2 linked regions of the Homo sapiens genome follow. The protein of the gene in region 1 purifies or fractionates together with the protein of each later gene. This does not show direct contact. Each region holds a gene or a part of one and is shown on either strand. Other genes may lie near its edges.

Region 1 (4,568 bases):
TTGGGTTTGGGAAGAGACGGTTTACCTTTGAAAAGCGTCTGCTCACTCGGAGGTGGGATCCCAGGCCTTGCCTGGACCCATGGGCTAGGAGAGGGTCGCGGCAGGCTGGGAGGAGAGTGAGGCCTTGGGGGAGTGGATGGGGTGCCCCACGAAGAGTCTGCCTCAGAGCCAGGTGACACAGAGGGGCTCCAGGAGGGAGTCAGGCTCCGCTGAGAGCCCTTAGAGAGACAACCTATCTTGGGGGAGGGGCTGAAGTGACCATGCAGACCCAAGGGTACCAGAAGAGCCTCGGGGAAACGCGGCGTGGATTCGCAGGCCTTGGCGGGGCTCCGAAGCAGTGAAGGGTCTAGGTATAAGGCGGACACCCAGGCTAGGCCTGAAAGCAGAGGGGTGAGGAGGACGAAGGTGCGAGTGTGTGGGGGTTGTCTCTTGTGGGGAGCCAGCGGGAAGCCAAGCACCCTAAGAGTAGGACTCCAGATCCTTTTGTTCACCAGACTCCCCAGATTCTAGGGAGGCTGGGGACCACGGGCTGAGCCCCCTCCTGGCTTCAGTGCTGAAGGAGAAGGCAGAGAGGCAACGGGGAGAGAGACAGAGACAGTGACACACAGCTTAGAGGAAAGGAGGGGAGAGGATGAGAGGACAGAGAGAGAGAGGAGAAGGGAGACAGGAAAGCAAGAGGAAGGAAGAAGGAAAGCGGAAAAGAAGAGGAAGGAGAGAAGTGAAGACAGGAGAGAGAAGGGAGAAGACTGAAGAGAAACGAGGCAAGGAGAAAGAGAGACAAGAACAGAGAGGGAAACCAGAGAGAAGGGAAGAGAGCCGGGTGGGCACGAAGGCCCCGGCCTGGGTGAGTGCCTAGGTGGTGAATGGCCTGGGTTTTTCCGAGGCCAGCACTCGCACCCTTGGGGTCAGAACCGGAAAGAGCCAAGTCACTCCACTCTGAACGCGCTGGGCAGAAAAATATGTAAATCAGGGCTCCCTGCGCCCTGGAGAGTGGCGAAATTACTCCCGCCCGGTGAACAAGAAGCAACAAGCTCCCAGGCGGGTGAGCTGCAGAGGGTGGCAGAGTCGCGGGGGAGGGAGCGGCTGCAGTAAGGGGGGTGGGGTTCGGAACCTCACACCCTCACACCTAGTTCCTAGCTTCTAGGGAGCCTGGAGCCGGGGCTTCCCCCCCTCTGCTCGCTGCTTCTCTCCCTTCCCCCTTCCTCCCCCTCTTCCCCCTCCTTCCTCCTCCCCGCCGGCCTCGGTCCGCGTACTTAAAGCGGCGCGGGAGGGCGGACGCGGGCGGGCGGCCCGTTCGGGCGGTGGCAGATGCGCCCAGCGGTGACAGCGGCCAGCGGCGCGCAGGTGACCGGCCTGAGGCGCAGCCTGGTCAGGGAGCGCCCGGGGAGAGCTGGCGGCAGAGGGCAGCCGATCCGCCCCCAGCGCGCGCGTCTCGGCGCCAGGAGCCGTCCCGGGGCGTGTTGGCGAGCGTTGATATAGATATAAGGACATTTCTCTTCATGGCGTCACGTGACATAATTACCACCAGAATCAATCAAGATGAATTGCACGTCAGCGCCCGGTGGGGATTTTTGCTTAGTTGATCCTGGCCCAAGCCTCTTGTGCAATCGATGGCTCAGGTTGGCTGCGCGGGGAGCGGCCAGAGGCTCGCTGGCGCGCACGCCGCGGAGTCATGAACGACTTTGACGAGTGCGGCCAGAGCGCAGCCAGCATGTACCTGCCGGGCTGCGCCTACTATGTGGCCCCGTCTGACTTCGCTAGCAAGCCTTCGTTCCTTTCCCAACCGTCGTCCTGCCAGATGACTTTCCCCTACTCTTCCAACCTGGCTCCGCACGTCCAGCCCGTGCGCGAAGTGGCCTTCCGCGACTACGGCCTGGAGCGCGCCAAGTGGCCGTACCGCGGCGGCGGCGGCGGCGGCAGCGCGGGGGGCGGCAGCAGCGGGGGCGGCCCCGGCGGGGGCGGCGGCGGCGCGGGGGGCTACGCTCCCTACTACGCGGCGGCGGCGGCGGCGGCTGCGGCGGCCGCGGCGGCCGAGGAGGCGGCCATGCAACGCGAGCTTCTCCCGCCCGCGGGCCGCCGGCCGGACGTGCTCTTCAAGGCGCCTGAGCCGGTGTGCGCTGCGCCGGGGCCGCCGCACGGCCCCGCGGGCGCCGCCTCCAACTTCTACAGCGCGGTGGGCCGCAATGGCATCTTGCCACAGGGCTTCGACCAGTTCTACGAGGCAGCGCCCGGGCCCCCGTTCGCCGGGCCGCAGCCCCCGCCGCCACCCGCGCCGCCACAGCCCGAGGGCGCAGCCGACAAGGGCGACCCCAGGACCGGGGCTGGTGGCGGCGGGGGCAGTCCCTGCACCAAGGCGACCCCTGGCTCGGAGCCCAAGGGGGCAGCAGAAGGCAGCGGTGGCGACGGCGAGGGCCCCCCGGGAGAGGCGGGGGCCGAGAAGAGCAGCAGCGCAGGTAGGCACCGGGTACTGGGCAAGCGGTGGGCCCGGGGGCCGCGGGGGAGGGGGGGGGGGCGGAGGCCTCCCTCTGCTTGCGCCTTTTTATGTGCTACTTTATAAGCATTCGAAGAGGTTTATACATCCTATAAGATTTCCTGGGCCGTTGTAAAGTGTGTTTATGGTAGGAAACCAATTTAGGTGGGCTTAAGGTAGACTTCGAGGAGGACATTAATAGCTGTCGAGAGCCTTTTCCCAGTTTTGGGCAGGGGGTTGCTAGATACCATGGAGGGAGGGAGGGAGGGAGATTTCAAGCCAGTGTGAGTGCATACACCGGAGCCTCCTGCTTTTAAGGGAGAGAGGCGGGGGGTGGGGAAGTGGGGGGAGTTTGATCCTTGCACTGGACTTTATCCAAGCCGCTAGCTGACGCGCGCCGCTGGAGTCAAGCAGATGCCCCGGCGGGCCTGCTCTTGTCTCTGTTCCCTCAGGTTCCAGTTTAGAGCCTGCCTTGCCCTCTGCTTCCCCACCTCCGTGCCAGGCTCTGTGTGTGTGTGTGTGTGTGTGTGTGTGTGTGTGTGTGTCCGGGCGTGAACACATGTCCACGCCCGCACTCTCTCCTGTGCCCGCCCATATATCATCCCCCACGACGCAGGCAGGGCCTTTCGGCCGCGGCAGAGAACGTCCCCAACGGGGCCAGGGCCTGGCCCTCGCTCAGTGGCCCGGGCGGGCGGGCGGGTGGGGGCTGTCAGGCAGCGGCCTCTCTCACCCCCTGGTCTCTTTGCCTTGCAGTTGCCCCCCAGCGGTCCCGGAAAAAGCGCTGTCCCTATACCAAGTACCAGATCCGCGAACTGGAACGCGAGTTTTTCTTTAACGTGTACATAAACAAAGAGAAAAGACTTCAACTCTCTCGGATGCTCAACCTCACTGACCGGCAAGTCAAAATCTGGTTCCAGAATCGCAGGATGAAAGAAAAGAAACTGAACAGAGACCGTCTGCAGTATTTCACTGGAAACCCCTTATTTTGAGAGCTCCAGGAAGCGCCCTCACCCCAGCCCCACTCACCCACCCTCCTTCCCACCAGCCTGCTCTCCGCAGGCCCACTGTCCTTGGGTTTAATGACGTCTCTTCTCTGTGGAACTTCACGATTCCTTCCCACGGTCAACTCGGGACCTCCCAGCGACCACTGCAGCCTGCGGACGAGGCCGGGACTTGGCCGAGCGGATCCTAATAAGGGGAAAATGGTAAATGCAAACGTCCCGTTACAATTTTACCGCCAGTGTGCTGTCGTTCCCCCTCCCCCTCTCCGAGTCCTCGTGGGGACACGGCGGGGTCTGTAGGAAGTTGGGCCGGGTTGGGGGTTGCTAGAAGGCGCTGGTGTTTTGCTCTGAGTTTTAAGAGATCCCTTCCTTCCTCTTCGGTGAATGCAGGTTATTTAAACTTTGGGAAATGTACTTTTAGTCTGTCATATCAAGGCATGAGTCACTGTCTTTTTTTGTGTGAATAAATGGTTTCTAGTAAAATGGAGGTTACAGCTTCAATACACTGTATGAATTCTCCTCTTTGAGGTTTAGTGCCTCCTTAGGATATTTTAGTGGCCAGAACCCATGCAACTGAAAATCGAATGAAATACTTTTTAGTCCCACTAAAATAGTAGTCGTACCCTCCCACCACCTCTAGGTTACACTGGTTTTAAAAATCATGTTAGTGATGAATTTCTGAATTGACGATGTGACCAAGCAATGCTGGCGCTGCCTTCTCCAGGCAGTAAGGCTGGGGCAGCAGGAACCTAAGAAGAAAACTCCCACCCCCACCACTAGTCTAGTGAACTTGGGATTTCTGAAAAGACAGCAACCATTTTTAAAAACTGGTTAGAAAATCCAAATGATCTCTTACAAGCTAACAAGGAGTCACAGTCCCTTAAAAAAGAAGAAACCAAAATTAGAAACTTCCATTGAAGGGAGAAGTTTTCGAAAAGGAAGTCATCAGTAGGTGGAGAGGGCTTGCTGGTGTCATAAGTGGACCTGGAGTAGGGAAGGTAAACCCTCCCCGCCCCCACTGAAATAGGGCCAGGAGCTGCAGACCCTCTCACGGCATTTATCGCTTCAAGTTAAAGAATGTGGTGAGGGCTCTACTG
Region 2 (3,806 bases), on another chromosome or scaffold:
AGTGTGATCCCCAGACCTGTACTATCAGTATCCAATGAGAACTTGTTAGAAATGCAAATTCTGGCCAGGCACACTGGCTCATGCCTGTAATCCCAGCACTTTGGGAGGCCCAGATGGGAAGACAGTTTGAGCCCAGGAGTTAGACTAACCTGGGCAACATACTGAGACCCTCATCTCTACAAAAACTTTAAAAAATAGCCAGGCATGGTGGCATGCAGCTGTACTTCCAGTCACTTGGGAGGCTGAACCCAGGAGGTCAAGGCTGCAGTGAGCTGTGTTCACGCCACTGCACTCCAGCCTGGGCAACAGAGTGAGAGACCCTGTCGAAGCAAGGAGGAGGAGGAGGAAAAGGAGAAGGAAGAGGGGGAGGGGGAGGCAGCGGCGGCAGAGGAGATGGAAGAGGCAGAGGCGGCGGCGGAGGAGAACCCTGTCGAAGTCAGGGGGAGGAGGAGGAGGAGAAAGACGGAAGAGAAGGAGGAGGAGGAGGAGAAGGAGAAAGAAGGAAGAGAAGGAGAAGGAGGAGAAGGAGAAAGAAGGAAGAGAAGGAGGGGGAAGAGAAGGTGGAGGAGGAGGAGAAGGAGGAGACAGAGAGAGAAGGAGGAAGAGGAGGAGAAGGAGAAGGAAGAGGAGGAAGAAAGAAGAAAGAAGAAGAGGAGGCATGCAGACAAATTCCTTGGTCTCATTCCAGACCCACTCAATCAGAAACTGGCAGTGGGGCCCAAGAATCAAGTCTTTCAAGTGATTTTGATGCATGCTATAGTATGAGAATCATGCCTTTCTAGTTCTCAGTTTTCCCATCCATAACCAGGAGCTAGTTGTACTGGATGATTCGAAGGTCTATACAGGTTATAAAACTCTGACTCCAACCATATTAATATAAAAAGGATGGCCAAGCTGTAGCCAACTCTTTTGATAATTTTCAGTGACAATGAAAAACTCAAGATTTAAGAATTCTGGCTGGGTGTAGTGGCTCACACCTGTAATGCCAGCACTTTGGGAAGCCAAGGTGGACAGACTGCTTGAGCTCAGGAGTTTGAGACCAGCCTAGGCAACATAATGAGTCCCTGTCTCTACTTAAAAACAAAACAAAACAAAACAAAATCAGGACCTGTGTGGTGGCACGCACACATATTATTTCCATTTGTTCATTATCCTGTAGTAATATGGGTGTAGAACAGAGATTCTGTCTGGGTTTGTAAAAGAAACACCACTCATCCCCAACCCCATTCATGTAGCACGTTATTCTTATGAACTCTCCTATCAGTCCCAATCAGTCTTACCAACTAACTAGACAAGAAAAAAAATGACCTAAGACAGATCAGATTCTTGACTGAACACCAGAAGTAGGGTTGATATAAGTCAGAGCTAGGATCGTTCACTTGTGGATAACACGAGTGTGTCCACACTGAGAATTACGCAAATCTACAGAAAGAAGCAAGTGAGAGACCATAAGACCAGGGAAAGGTAGTGAGAATAATGGTGTAGTTGAACAGTGTTCCCCCCAAATTCACATCCACCTGAAACCTCGGAATGTGACTTTATTTAAAAATAGGCTCTTTGCAGATTTCCTTAGTTAAGAGTTGAGATCACACTTGATTAGGGTGAGCCCTAAATCCAATAACTGGTGTCCTCCTAAGAGGAGGAGAGAACAGAAACACAGCAAAGGTCACATGAAGACAGAGGCAGAGGTTGGGGGTATGGTGCCTGAGGCCAAGGAAAGCCGGGAGTTATCAGAAACGGAACAGGCAAGGACGGATCTTCCGTTAAAGAGAATGTATGTGGCCCTGTTGACAGCTTGGTTTTGGACTTTTGGCCTGTTTAACTGTGAGAATGAATTTCTGTTGTTTTTAATCCATCTAGTTTGTGGTTATTTATAATGGCAGCCTTAGGAAACTAATACATGTGGTGATTGATGCTCCTCGTATGTCTCACCCTTTAATTCTTTATTTATTCATTTATTTGTCCAACAAATACTTAGTGCTATTACATGTCCTATACTATTCTAGCACTGGGAATACAGTATTAATTTAAACAAAACACAAAAAATCCCTGTGCTGAGGTATATTTTATGGTATGTGAATTTTATCTTAATGAAAGTTTATTAAAGAAACCTTTGCCTTCATGGACTTTATATGCCAGTGGGCTGCCCTTCTATCCTTCCACAAATTCTAATTTTTGTTTAAGCTAGTTGAAGAGTTTTCTATTCCTTGTAATTAAATGATCTCCAAATCACATTCTATAATTCTATTATTAATAGTTCTTGATTACAGGAAGACTTGCAAACTTATTACGGTCACAAAACATATCCATGTTGCCAATTTATTTTAAATCCTCACCTTGTTTGACCTCTCAGTAAAATCTGATCCAGTCAACCACTTATTTTATCTTTCAAACATTCTTCTCTATACTTTTATAATCTCCTTGGTCTAGGAAATGTCACAGGGACTGGTAATACAGATAAGTAATTCCTGGAATACATCGGGGCTGGGGAGTAGCAGGGAGGGGGACACATGAAGAGAACCAAGCTTTCCACCAGGCCTTTCCTCCTCCTCGTTTCCCCTTAATTGGAACTGAGCTTTCAGGTGTGATATTCAGCAGATGGGGAGAGGTCCCATGAATGAAGCATAGCTGTGAGCTGGTGCAACTGGAGGGGCACACTCCACAGTTGCACTGTTGGCCAGAACCCCCCAAGAACAGAAGTCAGGTTCCTCACGGAATTACAAATATGGAAAGGGAGAAGGCTATAATAAACCCTGTGGTGCTGGGCTGCAATTGGAGGAATCATTATAAACTCAAGATTTTGAATACTTATAAATACTAAAACTGATATGTGTGTACATATGTATGTATGTCCATATATTCTTAGCTCTGTCCACTGCAAGGGTCTAGATCTGGGAGCACATATAGCATCCAGATCTCACTGTCTACTAAAAGGAACCAGGGTTCTTGGAAAAATGGCTGAGTCCAGGACTAGAGCAGGAAACATATAAGACAATCCTAGAAAAAGTCTTGTACCATAAAGTGAGGAAGTGATCAAATAAGAATGAGGATATGTCCAAAAGACACCAAGTACCAGCTTGAAAGGGTTACTGTGGCCAACTAAAGGACAATTTGAGCATCAAAATAAATAACTAACTTGATTGTTATCCTCTGAATACAATAGGAATCCAAGAGTCTGTACTGATTTAAAATTTTGAAACAAATGAGTATCTACATAAGTAATAAATAAAGGAGAAAGGAAAGCTCTACCCCACAGTAGACTGCTAAATAATAAATCCAGAATAAAGGAATTTTTTTTTTTTTTGAGACTGAGTCTCACTGTCGCCTAGGCTGGAGTACAGTGGCACCATCTTGGCTCACTGCAACCTCCAGCTCCCAAGTAGATGGGACAACAGGCATGCACCATCCTGTCCAGCTAGTTTTTTAATTTTTAGTAGAGACGAGGTTTCGTCATGTTGGCCAGGCTGGTACTGAACTACTGACCTCAGATGATCCTCCTGCCTCAGCCTCCCAAAGTGCTGGAATTACAGGCATGAGCCACTGCACCCGGCCAGAACAAAGGAAATTTAATTAAAAGACCATATTTTAACTTTAAATATTTAAATATCATAAGATATTCGGCAACTACCACAACAATAGATTCTGGCAATAATCATTAATGGGTGCTAAATCCATGGGTGAACATATGGTGGGGATCAGGAATATGTTATAATATCAAGGTATCTCCCCACAAAATATTTTTTAATATTTTAATTACATATTCAATATTTTAAATATTTCATATGTTATATTTATTATTTTAATGT

What was found.
Region 2: the proteins of HOXD11 (region 1) and LYPLA1 purify together in Homo sapiens (affinity purification with mass spectrometry; one large-scale study listed by BioGRID and IntAct). This does not show direct contact.

Annotation. Positions count from the first base shown.
Region 1 is NC_000002.12:176,105,684-176,110,251, forward strand, and holds HOXD11 (homeobox protein Hox-D11), read left to right. Parts: upstream 1-1,596; 5' UTR 1,597-1,672; coding exon 1,673-2,453; intron 2,454-3,223; coding exon 3,224-3,459; 3' UTR 3,460-4,071; downstream 4,072-4,568. UniProt on the Homo sapiens protein: Sequence-specific transcription factor which is part of a developmental regulatory system that provides cells with specific positional identities on the anterior-posterior axis.
Region 2 is NC_000008.11:54,091,745-54,095,550, forward strand, and holds part of LYPLA1 (acyl-protein thioesterase 1), read right to left. Parts: intron 1-3,806. UniProt on the Homo sapiens protein: Acts as an acyl-protein thioesterase. Hydrolyzes fatty acids from S-acylated cysteine residues in proteins such as trimeric G alpha proteins or HRAS.